Regions from separate parts of the Homo sapiens genome. Here all the other regions are linked to region 2. The links come from fine-mapping of genetic effects on gene expression. A gene starts in region 2. Each other region holds a variant in brackets. All regions are shown on one strand. Distances are between the middles of the regions.

Region 1 (5,223 bases), 50 kb after region 2:
TCCTTTCAAGGGAGCAGGCACCACCTCATGAGCCTGTTGCCTGACATCACAGCTCATCTTAAAGGCCAGGAGCAGGAAGAAGTCAGGTAGGGGCAGGTAGACCATGCTTCCTTCACACCTCAGCCAAAGAGCTCCAAGAGCTTTTCAGCTCTGGCTTCAAGACTCCCTGAACGCTGCCAAGGCCAACCCTAACTCAGAAATGCTGGGAGAGACAGGGCAGAGGGTAGGGACAGGCCTTCACCTCTGTTTCCTACCCGCTGGGCCACTCTTCTGCTCTTGAAGACTCCCCAACCAGCCCTTTTTGCCATAGCTGTTGATAGGTAAGTGGGGTTGCTCACCAAACTTCCAGCCTTCAATTCCACAAACATCTACTGAGTACTGTGTGCCTGGCTCTGACCCAGGCAGAGGGGATGCCATGACAAAGGAGACAGACCCTGCCCTGAAAATACTAAAAACCCCCATAGGTCAGAAGCCTTTTTTTTTTTTTTTTTTTTGAGATGGAGTTTCGCTCTTGTTGCCCAGGCTGGAGTACAATGGTGTGATCTCAGCTCACCACAACCTCCGCCTCCCAGGTTCAAGCGATTCTCCTGCCTCAGCCTCCCTAGTAGCTGGGATTACAGGCATGTGCCACCACACCCAGCTAATTTTGTATTTTTAATAGAGATGGGGTTTCTCCATGTTGGTCAGGTTGGTCTCGAACTCCCGAACTCAGGTAATCTGCCTGCTCCAGCCTCCCAAAGTGCTGGGATTACAGGCATGAGCCACCGTGCCCGGCCAGAAGCCTCTTACAACACTAGCCACAGTGCTGTGGCAGTGATGCACCTGTAACAGGTGTGAAAGGGCATGGACTGCAGAGTCCAACACCTAGGAATTCAAATCCCAGCTCTGACCCTTCCTAGCTCTGTGACCTTGGACAAGCATTTGGCCTCCCTGAACCTGTTTCCTCTTCAAAAAATGGGGGCAGACCGGGCACAGTGGCTCAAGCCTGTAATTTCAGCACTTTGGGAGGCTGAAGCGGACAGATCACTTGAGGTCAGGAGTTTGAGACCAGCCTGGCCAACATGGTGAAACCCCATCTCTACCCAAAATACAAAAAATAATTAGCCAGGTGTGGTGGTGCGCGCTTGTAGTCCCAGCTGCTCGGGAGGCTGAGGCACAAGAATCACCTGAACCCGGGAGGCGTAGGCTGCAGTGAGCCAAGATGGCACCACTGCTTTTCTGCCTGAGAGACAGAGTGAGACTCCTTCTCAAAAAAACAAAACAAAAAAAAGGACTGGGCGTGGTGGCTCACGCCTGTAATCCTAGCACTCTGGGAGGCCGAGGCAGGCAGATTGCTTAAGGTCAGGAGTTCGAGACAGCCCGGCCAATATGGTGAAACCCCGTATCTACTAAAAATACAAAAATTAGCCAGGCGTGGCAGAGCATGCCTGTAGTCCCAACTACTCGGGAGGCTGAGGCAGGAGAATCGCTTGAACCCAGGAGGCGGAGGTTGCAGTGAGCCGAGATCATGTTACTGCACTCCAGCCTGGGCTACAGAGTGAGACTCCATCTCAAAAAAAAAAAAAAAGAGCAGTTGAGTCCCTTACATGGTGGGTGAGGGATATGAGATAGGTCATAAATGAGATTCATGTGCCACAGAGTGGCTGGCATCAAGTAAGAGTGTCACAAGCATGCATTCCATTTTATTCATGGTACGAGAACAATGCACCATGGAGTATGTAGCCAGGAGGTGCCATTTCTGCCTGGCGTGGCTAGGGCTGGTCTGCAGTGGAAGCCAGATTGGAGCTGGGCCTTAAAGGATGAGTGTCTAAGAGAGAAGAGTGGATGAAGGGCATTCCCACAAGAGAATGGCATAAGCACAGTCCTAAAGACATGAATGTGTTTGTTAAAGAGATCTGGTGTGGCTGAAGCTTAGGTTTGTTTAGGAAATGAGACTTAAAAGATGTTAAATTGGCCAGGGACAGTGGCTCACCCCTGTAATCCCAGCACTTAGGGAGGCCGAGGCGGGTGGATCACTTGAGCCCAGGAGTTCAAGACAGCCTGGGCAACATGTCAAGACCTTTTTTCTATAAAAATTACAAAAATTAGCCTGGCATGACGGCATGTGCCTGTAGTCCCAGCTACTCGGGAGGCTGAGCCAGAGCATGACCCTGTCTCAAAAAAAAAAATGTTGAATTGACATTCATGTCATGCTAAAAGCATTTATTTAGAAAGTAAGAAGGAGTCGTTGAAAGTGTTTCATCTGTACTGTGACTTCATTTCAGAAGGATGGCAGCTTTGGAGGAGGATAATCGGCAGGAAGAGAGGCAGAGGA[C/T]TCACAGTCTGGAGAGGAAGTTCTTACACTCACTTGAGAGTAGGAGATGATGGGGCCTGAACTAGGAAAGGCTGTGGGACTGAGACACCTTTAGGCTGAGAGTCTCCACAAGCTTAGCCCTCCTCGTAGGAGGCATGTGGTGTCTGGGGCTCTCCCAGATTGACCTCCTGTGCTCAAACTCCCAATAGTGAGGGCAGGAACTGACTCCACACTTCCCAGTGTAAGCGCTGGGGCCACTCCAGTAGAGCTGCTTCCTGTCCTTGTCCTCCCCCAGCCTCCCTCCTTCCTCTAGGTTAGGGGTGATGCTGAAAAGAGGACTAGGGCTGTGGAAGGAAGGGCTGAGTGTGAGCCCTGTTGAGTTCATTTCTTCAGGAAGCTCACATCTTCCCAGGGAAGACAGATACTTGGCAGCACTTATAAAGCAAGGCCAGACCAGCCTGGGCAACATATCAAAATCCCATCTCTACAAAAATAAAAAATTAGCAGGCATGGTGGTATTTGCCTGTGGTCCCAGCTACTTGGGAGGCTGAGGTGGGAGGATCACTTGAGCCCAGGAAATTGAGGCTGCAGTGAGCTGTGATTGCACCATTGCACTCCAGCATGGATGGCAGAGTGAGACCTTGTCTCTAAAAAAGATACAAATAAAGTAAAATAGGCCAAGCACAGTAGCTCATGCCTGTAATCCCAGAACTTTGGGAGGCTGTGGCAGGAGGATTGCTTGAGGCCAGGAGTTCAAGACCAGCCTGGGCAATGTCACAAGACCCCATCTCTATAAAAAATAGAAAAGTTAGCTGGGCACGGTGGCATGTGCCTGTGGTTCCAGCTACTTGGAGGGCTGAGGTGGAAGGATTGCTTGAGCCCAGCAGGCTGAGACTGCAGTGAGCCTTGACTGCACCATTGTACTCCAGCCTAGGCAATAGAGTGAGACCCAGTCTCTAAAAAAAAATAATAAATAAATCAAGGCAAGCAAGTATCAGGGATGCAATGACAGGGTCTGGTGGACAAGGAATGTATAGATTAGGCTTCTGGAAAGGGAAGGGTGAAGAGTTTGGCAGAGATGGGAGGAGCTTGGCAGTGATCTCTAGGGAATCTTTGTAGCAATGGAAAGGTTGTATGGAATGGAAGCAAGCATATTAGCGGTCCTTCCTCTCAAACTGGGTTCTTTCGTTATCTTTCTCCTCCTAACCCTATGCTACCCATCCTTCGGAAGCTCTTTCACCTGAATCTCTTGTACTGGAGTGTATTAGTCCATTCTCATTTATAAAGGAGAGAGGTTTAATTAACTCACAGTTCTGCAGGGCTGGGGAGACCTCAGGAAACCTATAATCATGGCAGAAGGGGAAGCAAACATGTCCTTCCTCATGAGGTGTCAGGAGAGAGAAGAATGAGAGCCGAGCAAAAGGGGAAGCCCCTCATAAAACCATCAGATTTCGTGAGAACTTACTATCACAAGGATAGCATGGTGGAAACTGCCCCATGATTCAATTATCTCCCACTGGGTCCCTTCCATCACATGTGGGGATTATGGGACCTACGACTCAAGATGAGATTTGGGTGAGGAAACAGCCAAACCATATCATTTCACCACTAACCCCTCCCAAATCTCATGTCCTCACATTTCAAAACACAATCATGCCTTTCCAACAGTCCCCCCAAAGTCTTAGCTAATTCCAGCATTAACCCAAAAGTCCAAGTCCAAACTCCCATCTGAGACAAGGCAAGTCCCTTCCCCTATGAGCCTGTAAAATCAAAAGCAAGTTAAGTCACTTCCTAGATACAATGGAGGTATAGGCATTGCGTAAATACAACCATTTGAAATGGGAGAAATTAGCCAAAACAGAGGGGCTACAGGCCCCATGCAAATCGAAAATCCAACAGGGCATTCATTAAGCCTTAAAGTTCCAAAGTGATTTCCTTTGACTTCGTGTCTCACATCCAGGTCACGCTGATGCAAGAGGTGGGCTCCCGTAGCCTTGGACGTGGGGGTTCTAAACTGTTAACTTTTCACCCTAAACTTTGTGACTCTGTGAGCTGCAAGTGCCCAGGTAGGCAACTCCTCTGACTAGCTAGACAAGTGACATAATGCCAGGCTGGCATAGGCAGCATCTAACAGGCAGAGTAGCCTGTGTTCAGTAGGGCAGAGTTGGCAGTAGCCCCAGTATCCCCTCCAGAGCACCCGCCCCTAGCAGGCCACCATATACACGTTCACCTTCTCTCTGTCTGTCCTGGACTTGTTGCCCTGGACTCTCTTCTAAAGCCAATTCTCTCCAAAGGCCAATTCCAGCATCTCTAAATCATCTGCATGGTCAGGACGCACTGGCTCACACCTGTAATCCCAGCACTTTGGGAGGCTGAGGTGGGAAAATCACTTGAGCCCAGGAGTTCAAGACCATCCTGGGCAACATAGTAAGACTCTGTCTTTACAAAAAAATAAAAAATTAGCTGGGCATGGTGGTATGTGCCTGTAGTCCCAGCTACTCGAGAGGCTGAGGTGGGAGGGTCACCTGAACTCAGGAGGTCAAGGTTGCAGTGAGCCCTGATCATGCCACTGTATTCAGCATGGGTGACAGAGCGACACCCTGTGTCAAAAACAAAAACAAAACAATCACCTGCCTGAAAAACCTAAGCTAGTCATTCTTATTTTTCTGGGTCCTGGCATCCTTTCAGAATCTGTTAAAATCCCTAGAATAGTGCACCACTGCCCACAATAATATGCAAAACCCACATTTTTGCATTTAATTCCAGGGAATTTGTGGACCCTATGATAAACAACCCTACCCAGAGGGCTTTCAGACGCTAGAGATACTTTAAGCAACATTCAGTTCAGTGAGGAAAGGAGGAAAAAACCCTCAGATCCATGGTCAGAAATCTCTGCCGTCCACAGTGGGATAAAATTTCCCACACGTTTG
Region 2 (5,217 bases):
TTCCCATTGTATTCCTTTTCTTCTCCTCACCCTACCACCCAAGAAAGTTTCACAAACTAGATATAAAGGAGATATTTTCTATCCTACTCCAGAAGTACTCAAGAATTACTAATTTCACAGAACACTAACAGAAACCTAAGGGTCATGATGCCCTCAATAATATAACCTGTAAACATTCTGCATGTTAAGGACACTGTATCCTCACATCCATTCCAACCTATTCTCCCCACTGCAGCCAAAGAAATCTTTCAGTAGGAAAATCTGGGCCGGGCACGGTGGCTCACGTCTGTAATCCCAGCACTTTGGGAGGCCGAGGCGGGCAGATCACGAGGTCAGGAGATCAAGACCATCCTAGCTAACACGGTGAAACCCTGTCTCTACTAAAAATACAAAAAATTAGCCGGGCGTGGTGGAAGGCGCCTGTAGTCGCAGCTACTCCGGAGACCGAGGCAGGAGAATGGCGTGAACCTGGGAGACGGAGCTTGTAGTGAGTGGAGATCGCACCACTGCACTCCAGCCTGGGCGACAGAGCAAGACTCCATCTCAAAAAAAAAAAAAAAGAAAAGAAAAAAAAAAGAAAATCTGTTCATGATCTCATTTACTCTCTCATGCCCTCTCTCTCTCTCCCGGTTAGGAGAGACCCCCTCTCTCCCCTTTCCCCTCTACTTAAACCCCTTCAGTGGCTTCCCCTTGTTCCTCAGATAAATGTCAACTTCCTCAGCATGGGCTCCAAATGGCCCTGTGTGTTATAACCCCAGAACACATCTCATATACCATTCCCCTCATCGCTCCTTGTTGCTGCACCACACTGGCCTCATTTCAGGTCTCTAACCAGGTGTGTCCCCCTCTGCCACAGGTCTTTTGTGTAGCTGTTCTCTTTGCCTCTCAGGCCCTGTGATCCCCCTCTTCCCTCAGTTAACATTTATTCATCCTTTAGCTCTTTGCCCAGATTTTCTTCCTTAGCAAAATCTTCTCTGAGACCATGTCTGGAACCACTGTTATACACGCTTATGGCACTGCCTATCTTTCTTCAAAGCATTTATCACAGTTTATGATATTTATTTGTGTGATATTTGATTAAAAATAGTACTTCTCCCCTCCCCCACTAAATGATACGCTCCAGGAGGGCAAGAACATTGCCTATTTTTTCTTACCATTGTATCCCAAACAGAGATTGAATACATTTAATAGGCTTTAAGGGGGTTAGATATGCATTTTCCAAAATCTTAGATATTGTTCTTTTCAGACAGAGCAAGGAAAGAAGGATGTATCTTCTATTAATTGTAGCAAACTATTAACCAGGAAGAAGAGGAGAGAGTCAGTGTCTGATACTCATTTTGTTGCAAACTCAGGATATTTTCCCTGCCTCCTCGGGGAAACCATCCCTGAGGTCAACATGGCACTTGTTTCCAAGACGTGTCATCCTTCCTGAGATGGCCCATTACCCTCTTCAGAGCCCTGTACTTCAGACTTGCCTCCTCTTCCAACCCTCTTTCCAAGGCAGAAACCACACCATCTGATTGCACAGGAAACGGGGAGTGAGAATTCAATGGGCTGCCACTCATTCACTGAGTGTCACACAATAAACATTACTCCACAAAGCCCTTTCACAAACAGCACTTCGTCTGATCCTCAAAACAACCCTGTGAAGCATGCAAAGCAGACATAACTATTCCCATTTTAATAGCTGGGGAAACTGAGGTTCAAAGAGGCAAGTGACTTACTCAAGGTCACAAAGTTTGTGTGAGGCAGAGGTAGGATTTCAAACTACAGACTCTAACACTTAGTCCAATGCTTTTCCTTACATTAGCCGCCCCAACAGTTCCAATACCAGTTACTTAACCTTGGTTTTTTAATTCCCTTAAATAAGCACCTGTTCCTGACCCCTCCACACATCCTCAGCCCAGTTTGCAGTCCCTACCCAGAAGTTTTCAGGTGTCTGTTCAATGGGGCAGAGGGAGTCACAAACCGGGTCACCCTATCAGGGATTGGTCCCAGCCTCCAGAGTCTTTTCTGGCTTTTCCTCTGAACCACTGAGGAACCAGAAACCCCCAGAAATAAAAACACAAAGAGAAGACGTGCCCCACCAGAGCAAGGTCCCTGCTACCCTTTCTGCCCACGTTCTGGCAGGACAACGCGAGGCCAGACGCCGGCCCCTTCCAACAGAAAGACGCGAGGAGAACAAGAGGTCGCCGCCCGCCGGCTGTCAGGGCTCCTGGGCGGGCGGCGCAAGGGATGCGGCAGAGATGGGCCAGATCCCAGGTTCGGCCCAAGGTCACTCTCTCGCAGCCCTGGCCTGGTCCCCAACCGCCCGGAGCGCCCCCTGGTGTCCCGGGCTGGCCTCCCCTCGCCCTCAGGGAGCGGCCTGGGAAGCCTGGGCTCGGGGGCAGAAGGAAGGAGGGTGGGCAGAGGATGAGGAGGCTGCGCCCCGGGGAGGAGCGGGAGGCGCGGGAGGCGGGGCCCTACCTGATAGCTGAGGACGCCGTCCGGCTCGTTACTCCCGGCGGCCGGCATGGCGGAGCCGAACTAGGTCTCCCCCACGGGCTCCAAGCCAAGCATCAGCAGCCCGCGCCCTCTGGTCGGGTCTGAGCAGATCACTCGAACGGCGACCCCCACCCCGGAGCCAACGGTCAACCATCAACCGCCGCCGCCTCCATAGCCACCGGCCCGCGAGGCATCCGCCGCAACCAATCAGCGAGAGGCCTGCGCAGCCAATCAGGGCGCGGAGCACGGGAGGACGCTGTCCGGCGGTACCCTGGGCTACCGCGGGGAGGGGGAGGAGCCGGGGAGCCAACCGCTCCCGGGCCCGGTTGCCTTGGAAACCGCCTCCCTCCCTTCAGGGGCCTCTGGGCGTGAAGGTCCTTCCAACTGCTTGCTAGAAAATCTCTGCTTCTATTTGCAGCTGCACCTGACCCTTGAAAACTGGGAAAGTGTCGGTTTTGCCTATTCTGATTTCATTCCTTGGGAGATGATGTTTAAATTCCGGGCAAACATCCTTCGCGATTGCAGGAGGAGGTAATTGCGGATGAGGGGAGAGGGCCTTCTAAAATTAATTGTTTTTCCTTGAGCTAATGGCCAGATTAAAGAGCATTAAATTGAAGAAGGCAGGCAGTGTCAGGCTCCCTCACAGTCTCACTATGACTTAGGTCTTCTTCTTGAGTCTCAAGTCAGAAGCAAAACACACGGACAGGGTCGAGCTAAGGATGACTGTTGAAGCAATTCCACAAAAAGGCTTCGAACTTTTCCAGGAAATGATCTAAGGCAAACTATTATTTAGCAACAGAACTACTGACTTAACACAAGGTTAGAATATCATGAATAATGCATTAAATTTGATTTGGATTTATAAGAAAAGAGAGGCTGGCTAAAATCGAAGCAACCCTCTCTCCTCAAGAAAAAGAAAGGTACCTTTTGGGTTTTTTTTGTTTTTTTTTTGTTGTTTTTTTTGTTTTTTTTTTTTTTTTGGAGACGAAGTTTCACTCTTGTTGCCCAGGCTGGAGTGCAATGGCGTGTTCTTGGATCACTGCAACCTCCGCCTATCCAGTTCAAGCGATTCTCCTGCCTCAGCCTCCTGAGTAGCTGGGATTACAGGTCCCCACCACCACGCCCGGCTGATTTTTTTGTATTTGTAGTAGAGACGGGGTTTCACCATGTTGGCCAGGCTGGTCTGGAACTCCTGACCTCAGGTGATCTGCCCGCCTCAGCCACCCAAGGTGCTGGGATTACAGGCGTGAGCCATGGCACCCGGCCGTGGGGCCTTTTGTTTTATATGCACTATCATACCAGACTTCAGGTAGGTCCAAATTGGGGTCAGGGGAAGAATTGTTGCAAATAATTCTCAGCCCCTAAAGAAGCTACAGTTGGGGAAGGTAGTCTGATACATGTTAAAACTTTCCACCCCTGCTTACCATCCTTTGTGTTGGTCCTGAAATTGGAAACAAGGTTGGGCTTCAGTATCCCTGAAGCAGAATTGTATTTCTGATGTCCTGTATAAGCCTCCTGTCTAGTCTCTGCGTTTTAGTGTTCATTGCCACACACTCCATCAATCTCTTTACTAATCCTGTCATCTTGAATCTGGAATTCACATCCTACCCTCATCCCCATTTTTGTCCATCAAAATCTTAACCATCCTTCAAAGTTAATCTCAAAAGCCACCCTCTTCCAAGAAGCCTTTCTTTATTCTACTGTCCCTGATACCCCTAACAGATGTCATCTCACCCTCCCCAGAATTCTCAAGGCACTTCATACCTTTCTTATAGCAGTTGTCATGCTGTGGTTATTTAAGTACTTTATATGTTGACTTTAGCTTACTAAAATATTATAAGTTCTTTGAAAGCAATGATTATTTTTCTTATGCCCTTCTGTATACTCAACAGAGCCTCAACCAATCCCAGGCACATAGAAAGTACTTAGTAAATATGAATGCTTTTAATTCAATCTAATAAAAAATGTATTGAACACCTACTAATGAACAGGCCCAAGTAACACTGTAGAGGCAGAGAAATCTAAAATATATATCTCCAAGGGAGCTTAACAGGCTTATCAGGGAAACAGGGTATATGTTAATGAGTAATATTATATAAACCATGAAGATTGCAAAAATTCAGAAGAGAAAATGATCTTCAGGAAGGTTTCACAGAGGACATGGATTCGAGCTAAGTCTGAAAACATGGGTAAGATTTAGCTGACCCAAGGTAAGAAGAGCAAGCATCTCAAGTCTTAGGCAAAGACTTAAGAATAATAATGCACATGGCCCATTCAGGGTAGCCACAATTTGGGCCAAAGCAGAAAGTTATTGAGAAGAGCAGTGGGAGGTAATAGTTGTGATAGAGAAAGGCTGTGGGCTGGGCATGGTGGCTCACACTTGTAATCCCAGCACTTTGGGAGGCCAAGACAGATGGATCCCTTGAACCCAACAGTTCAAGACCAACTTGGGCCAACATGTAGAAATTCCATCTCTATTTTTAAAATACAAAAAAATTAGCCAGGCATGGTGGCATGCACCTGCAGTCCCAGCCCCTCAGGAAGCTGAAGTGGGAGGATCACCTGAGCCCAGGAGAGGCTTCAGTATACCACTCCACTCCAGCCGAGGTGACAGAGTGAGACCCTGTCTCAAAAAAATAAAAAATAAATAAAATAAAAGGCTGTGATCAAATTGTGGAGATCTGGCTAATTCATTCAGACTTTATTTTTCTTAAATGATAAAAAGCAGGACGC
Region 3 (5,223 bases), 22 kb after region 2:
TCCAAGACCTGCCTAGAAACTGGATGGTTCAAGGGCATCTCATAGAATAAAGCCCACAAGGATGGGTGGTCCATCCCTTCCAATCCAATGTGTTCCCACCTCCCCACTGTGAGTCACCACCCAACTCCCTTTCTCTGCTCCCTGGAGAGTCAGAAGCATCATTTCCTAAGCTTTTCTTGGCAGTTTCTCTCTGCTTCTTCCCTGCCAGACCTGGATTTTCATGAACATAGACAGCCCTTTTACCTCAAGCCTTTTCACGCCCTTATAGCAATAACTTAATCCAGTGCATCATATTATTTATTGATCAGATTCTTTTGGTTGAAAGTGACAAAAACACACTCAAACAAATTTCAATCAAAACAAGAAAAAAATAAGGAAAGAAAAAGAGACAAAAGAAAAGGGAAGAAAGAAAGCAGGGAAGGGAGGAGAAAGCAAAGAAAGTGGAAGAAAGGAGAAGTCTAGGAATAAATGACTTCAGATACAGCAGGACCCAGGAGTCCAAAAGATATCACTGGAGTCCTCTCATTCTTTATCTTTCTCTGCTTTCTCAGCGTTGGCTTCACGGTCAAGTTGACTCTCCTGCCTCATGTAATAGCAAAGATGATCACTAGCCACCCTAAACATACATAACTTCCCATCTAATGATTCCATCAGTGGTCATGTGGGGATGGAGGAGAAAAGACGGGGGGAGGAGTTCATCTTTTTTGCTTGCCCTAAGAAATGTCTCAGAGAAAGCTCTGAGTGGCCTGGCTTGGGTAACATGCCTAACCCTAAACCAATCACTGTGGCTACAAGATTTAAGATTCACCTGGCTGGCGCTAGGGAGTGAGGAGGGCCTCATCTGAATTTCATGGACTAAGAATCAAAGGAAGGTAGTTCCCTAAAAGATGCTAAAGGAAAAAGCAGGTTCTTTGTACTTGACTGCCCCATCCCAATCTCTGCCTCTCCTTGTACATAGTCAACCTCCCCAGCCTCTCTTGCATTTGGTCAGGAGTCAACTTCCACAGACTGACAATTTTATGCTCACCAGGCAGCCCAGGGTTCCAAAGCCATCTAACCCCTTCATGTAGCTCCCGATGTCCTATTTGCGTCTGCTTTTGTGTTGCAGCAAGCAGCAACAGTGGCCACACGGAAGAGTCTTATGATTTGCTCACAAGTCTGACTTCACCCTGAGTGAAGCCTACTTCCCTTGTCTACCCTAAGGCAGAGATCACTGTGCCAGGCCCCAAGCAGAAATGGGAACTCCAGGGCCCTGCAGCCACTGCCACCACCTGTGGTTGTGCAACTTTTGTGCCTTGCACACACTTAGCTTGTCAAGCAAGCATCCTAATGTATAGCTTTGCATCTGCCCAACAGAAAGGATGCCTTTTAGCAATGCTAGCAACCGCCCTGCCTACGGCAAAAGTACAGATAAGGAATGATTGCCCCAAGGCTGACATGGGAAGAATCTCAATGCTTAGACTTTAGACCTGGGTGACATGGCTTGATTAACAGAATTATTGCCGGGTGTTAAATAAAATAGGTGTTCTTATTCCTTCTGGGTGCCATGTGGCTGGGGTATAAAGGCAGTGAACCTGCCGTTATCTGCTGCTCCAGTCTGGCAAACATCTTTCTCCCCCACTGAATGGTAACATCGGCAGACTCTGAGGGGTGCTTCTTTGGGAGTTGACACAAGAGGCCATGGGAAGCAGCAGCCACCCACCTAAATGTACCCTTGTTTCATTTCTATCCTGTGCACTGCTTTCAGCTGCTTTGGGAGTAAACCTAAAACGAAAGAACTTTGAGCAGGATCCAAGCGGCCATTCTTGCCCACCCTCAAACCCAGGCCAAATTTCATGATTCAGCCAAGCTCATCAACAGGCTGTCATGGCTCCTGCCCAAACTCTGGAAATGAGTAAGTAACGCTTTCTGGTGGAGTAACAGGCACATATCAAGAAACTCACATGTTGGCTCCACTGATCCTTCTGTTCAGGCTTGAGTGGCCCCAACTCAGTAAAGTTTAGGTATCCTGGGTCTCCCCGGCGGTAGCGAGGAGTGCTTCTGAGTTTGTTGCTGTTGTTCTTGTTGAACATAGAGCATTTATTATGTTCTGAGCACTGTTCTGAGCAGTTTATACCTATTACCTAATCTAAATTTCACAACAGACTCTATATAATTGTCCTTTAAAAAAAAATGAAAACAGGCTAAACAACTTACCCATGACTACAGAACTGCCAGCTAACTGGGGGACTTCATGCAGTCATTCTCAGAGTCTCTCCTTTCACTGGGGGGGATTCTATCAGGGACCCCCAGTCCCATACTGAGACATGCCTCTCCCATAGCATCTGGCCATGGGATAACGCTGTGAAGAACAGGATAAGTGACAAGCACCCCCAGAAGACACCCGTCTTT[G/C]CCCATCACTGGCAAGGAGAGTGGAATCACCATATGGTGCTTAGATTAATTGCAAAGGGACAAATAAATGCCTAGGAGTCAACTACCCTGACCACTTTAGCTTTCATTTTTTATTTTTTGAGATGGAGTTTCACTCTTGTACCCCAGGTTGGAGTGCAATGGCGCGGTCTCGGCTCACTGCAACCTCCACCTCCCAGGTTCAAAAGATTCTCCTGCCTCAGTCTCCCAGGTAGCTGGGATTACAGGTACACGCCACTACACCCAGGTAATTTTTGCATTTTTAGTAGGGACGGGGTTTCACCATGTTGGCCAGGCTGGTCCCAAACTCCCGACCTCAGGTGATCCACGCACCTTAGCCTCCCAAAGTGTTGAGATTACAGGCGTGAGCTACTGTGCCAGGCCTCACTTTAGCCTTTAAATTTAGCACCTGTGAGTTTATCGGGGTAGCAAATGCCAGGACAGGATAACACCATAGAGAGCCCATCAGCACAGCAGGGCTTCTTCTCCCTCTATTCTTGAAGCATTCTAGCTTTGCACCCCTTAAGTCACTCAATTGTTTGGCAAACCTGGAATGGTTTCCCTTCAACAACAGCTGAATCCCAGGATATTCCAAGTCTTGATGATTAGGGAGTGAAGCCAATATCTTTTCAAAGTCTGAGCTCACCCCCTGTTGTAACCATATATGCCTGTCAAATCTTACTCTAGTCTTGCATAACACACATATATCAAGGCATCACTTCAGGTCTGTTTCTCCTGGTGGTTAAGATACGAAGGGGCCAGACACTGTGGCTCATGCCTGTAATTCCAGCACTTTGGGAGGCTGAAGGAGGAGGATCACTTAAGCTCAGATGTTTGAGACCAGCCTGGGCAACATAGGGAGATCCCATCTCTACAAAAAAAAATAGAAAAATTAGCTGGGTGTGGTTGCACATGTCTGTACTCCCAGCTACTCAGGGGGCTGAGGTGGGAGGATTGCTTGAGCCTGGGGAGGCTGAGGCTGCATTGAAGAGTTGATATGGGAGTGGGGCAGGGAAGTGCTGGGAAGGGAAGGGGGTGGTCCCTGGCTAGGGCTGCACCCCCAGGCCTGTGCCCAGGGACCTAGGTGAGGACAGGCATTTCTGTTTTCATGCCCAAACGTTGCATTTCCCAAGACCACCGTGGCCCACCACAGTCCTATCCTGTGCCTATAAAAACCCCGAGACCCGAGCGGGCAGAGACACAAGCGGCTGGACGTCAAGAGGAACAGATCAGTAGAGGAACGCACAGGCAGCTGGACATCGAGAGGAATACACTGGTGGAAGAGCATACCAACATGCAGTGGCAGATGCCAGCACGCTGGCACGCCATCGGCCCACGGAAAGACATAGAGTTTGCCTGGGGCAGTCAGAGGAGAGCCCAGCTGCTGAGCGGCCCAACTCAGGGGAAAACCACCTTTCCACTCCATCTCCCTTCTGGCTCCCCTATCTACTGAGAGCTACTTAAAATCAATAAAACCTTGCACTCATTCTCCAAGCCCACATATGATCTGATTTTTCCGGTACACCAAGGCAAGAACCCGGGATACAGAAAACCTCGCGATAAGGCAGAGGGTCTAATCCAGCTGGTTAGCACAGCCGCCTACAGACGGCAAAATTAAAAGAGCACACGGTAGCACACGCCCACTGGGGCTAGGAGCTGTAAACACTAACTGGCGACAGAGGAACGCTCCGTCTCAAACAAACAAAAGAAAAACATGTTGGCACTGTCCAAAGGTAGACGCTGCCGTGGGATCTGAACCCCACAACCTGCCCATCTGTATGTTCCATAGAGATTTCAGCAGCCGGGCCCTAAAGAAGCGAGCCACTCCCCTTGTTGCACTCCCTGTGAGGGGGACAAGGGAACCTTTCCCGTTTCACCGTGACGGTGCCACTGCACTCCAGCCTGGGCAACAGAGTGAGACCCTGTTTAAAAATATATATATATGTATATACATATATATGTTTATATACGTATATAAACATATATGTTTATATACGTATATAAACATATATGTTTATATATGTGTGTGTGTGTGTGTATGTATGTATATATATATATATATATATATATATATATATATATATATATATATATATAAAGGAGTTCATTCACACTCCTCTCAAGTACCGTTGGAAAAAAGTTATGTCATATAAACAAACTAGACAATCTATACCCCAGTCACCTTTTCCATTGAGTGGTTAAAGGATTCACAGACCCCTGAGGTGTTCTAGGGTATCCCATCAAACTGATATAACTCTATGGGCAACTGAGAGTGTGTTTTGTGTTTTTTGTTTTTTCCTCACTAACCATGGTTTTTTTTCTTAGTACCACTCCTCCCCAAACAACAGCATCAAATACCACCAACTCCCTGCCTGGCAGTGGGTCCCAACTCTGAGAAAACCTATACACATCTATACACATTACAATTGTACGTGACTATTTTGCCCACTACCACAGTGGGGGATTTAAAGGTCTTCGATGATAGTAGCTCTTCAAAGAGTTTCTGTAAATTCCTGATTTCAAACAATAAAATCTATTTTAATCTGCCCTCAGCAAACATAACTTACATTCCATTCATGGAGAAAGAAAAGGTTATTCTACTTTAGGGCTTCCTTTGCAGTCTTTCCTCCTGATCTCTGGGTGGTTAGAAATCCTTGAGATCAAAGGCCTCTGGATTTATCTGCAGGTCCAGGTGGAACAAACCCAGGAGAGGGCCAAGGGGCAGTGCTTGGGTCTGCATGGCCTCTGCCCACTCCACCCACCACACCCAGGAGGAGGGACCACTTCGTACCTCTGTGCTACCTTTGGACAGTG

The links.
Region 1: its variant is fine-mapped to the expression of SLC4A8 in monocytes (Quach 2016, PIP 0.95).
Region 3: its variant is fine-mapped to the expression of SLC4A8 in whole blood (TOPMed, PIP 0.98).

Annotation. Positions count from the first base shown.
Region 1 is chr12:51,371,905-51,377,127 of GRCh38, reverse strand. The region is part of intron 4 of GALNT6 (polypeptide N-acetylgalactosaminyltransferase 6); the gene reads left to right. Among named protein-coding and RNA genes, the nearest start is that of GALNT6, 17 kb to the left of the region's middle. The variant C/T (reference allele first, on the strand shown) is at 2,315.
Region 2 is chr12:51,422,285-51,427,501 of GRCh38, reverse strand. It overlaps SLC4A8 (solute carrier family 4 member 8), which reads right to left and starts at 2,671. Exons shown (of 25, transcript NM_001039960.3): 1 at 2,467-2,671. The coding sequence starts at 2,514. It overlaps SLC4A8-AS1 (SLC4A8 antisense RNA 1), which reads left to right and starts at 2,174. Exons shown (of 3, transcript XR_001749147.2): 1 at 2,174-2,262; 2 at 2,903-3,015. RefSeq lists an enhancer at 2,053-2,112 and silencers at 2,223-2,432, 2,703-2,912.
Region 3 is chr12:51,400,010-51,405,232 of GRCh38, reverse strand. It overlaps a transcript of SLC4A8 not described here. Among named protein-coding and RNA genes, the nearest start is that of GALNT6, 11 kb to the right of the region's middle. The variant G/C (reference allele first, on the strand shown) is at 2,392.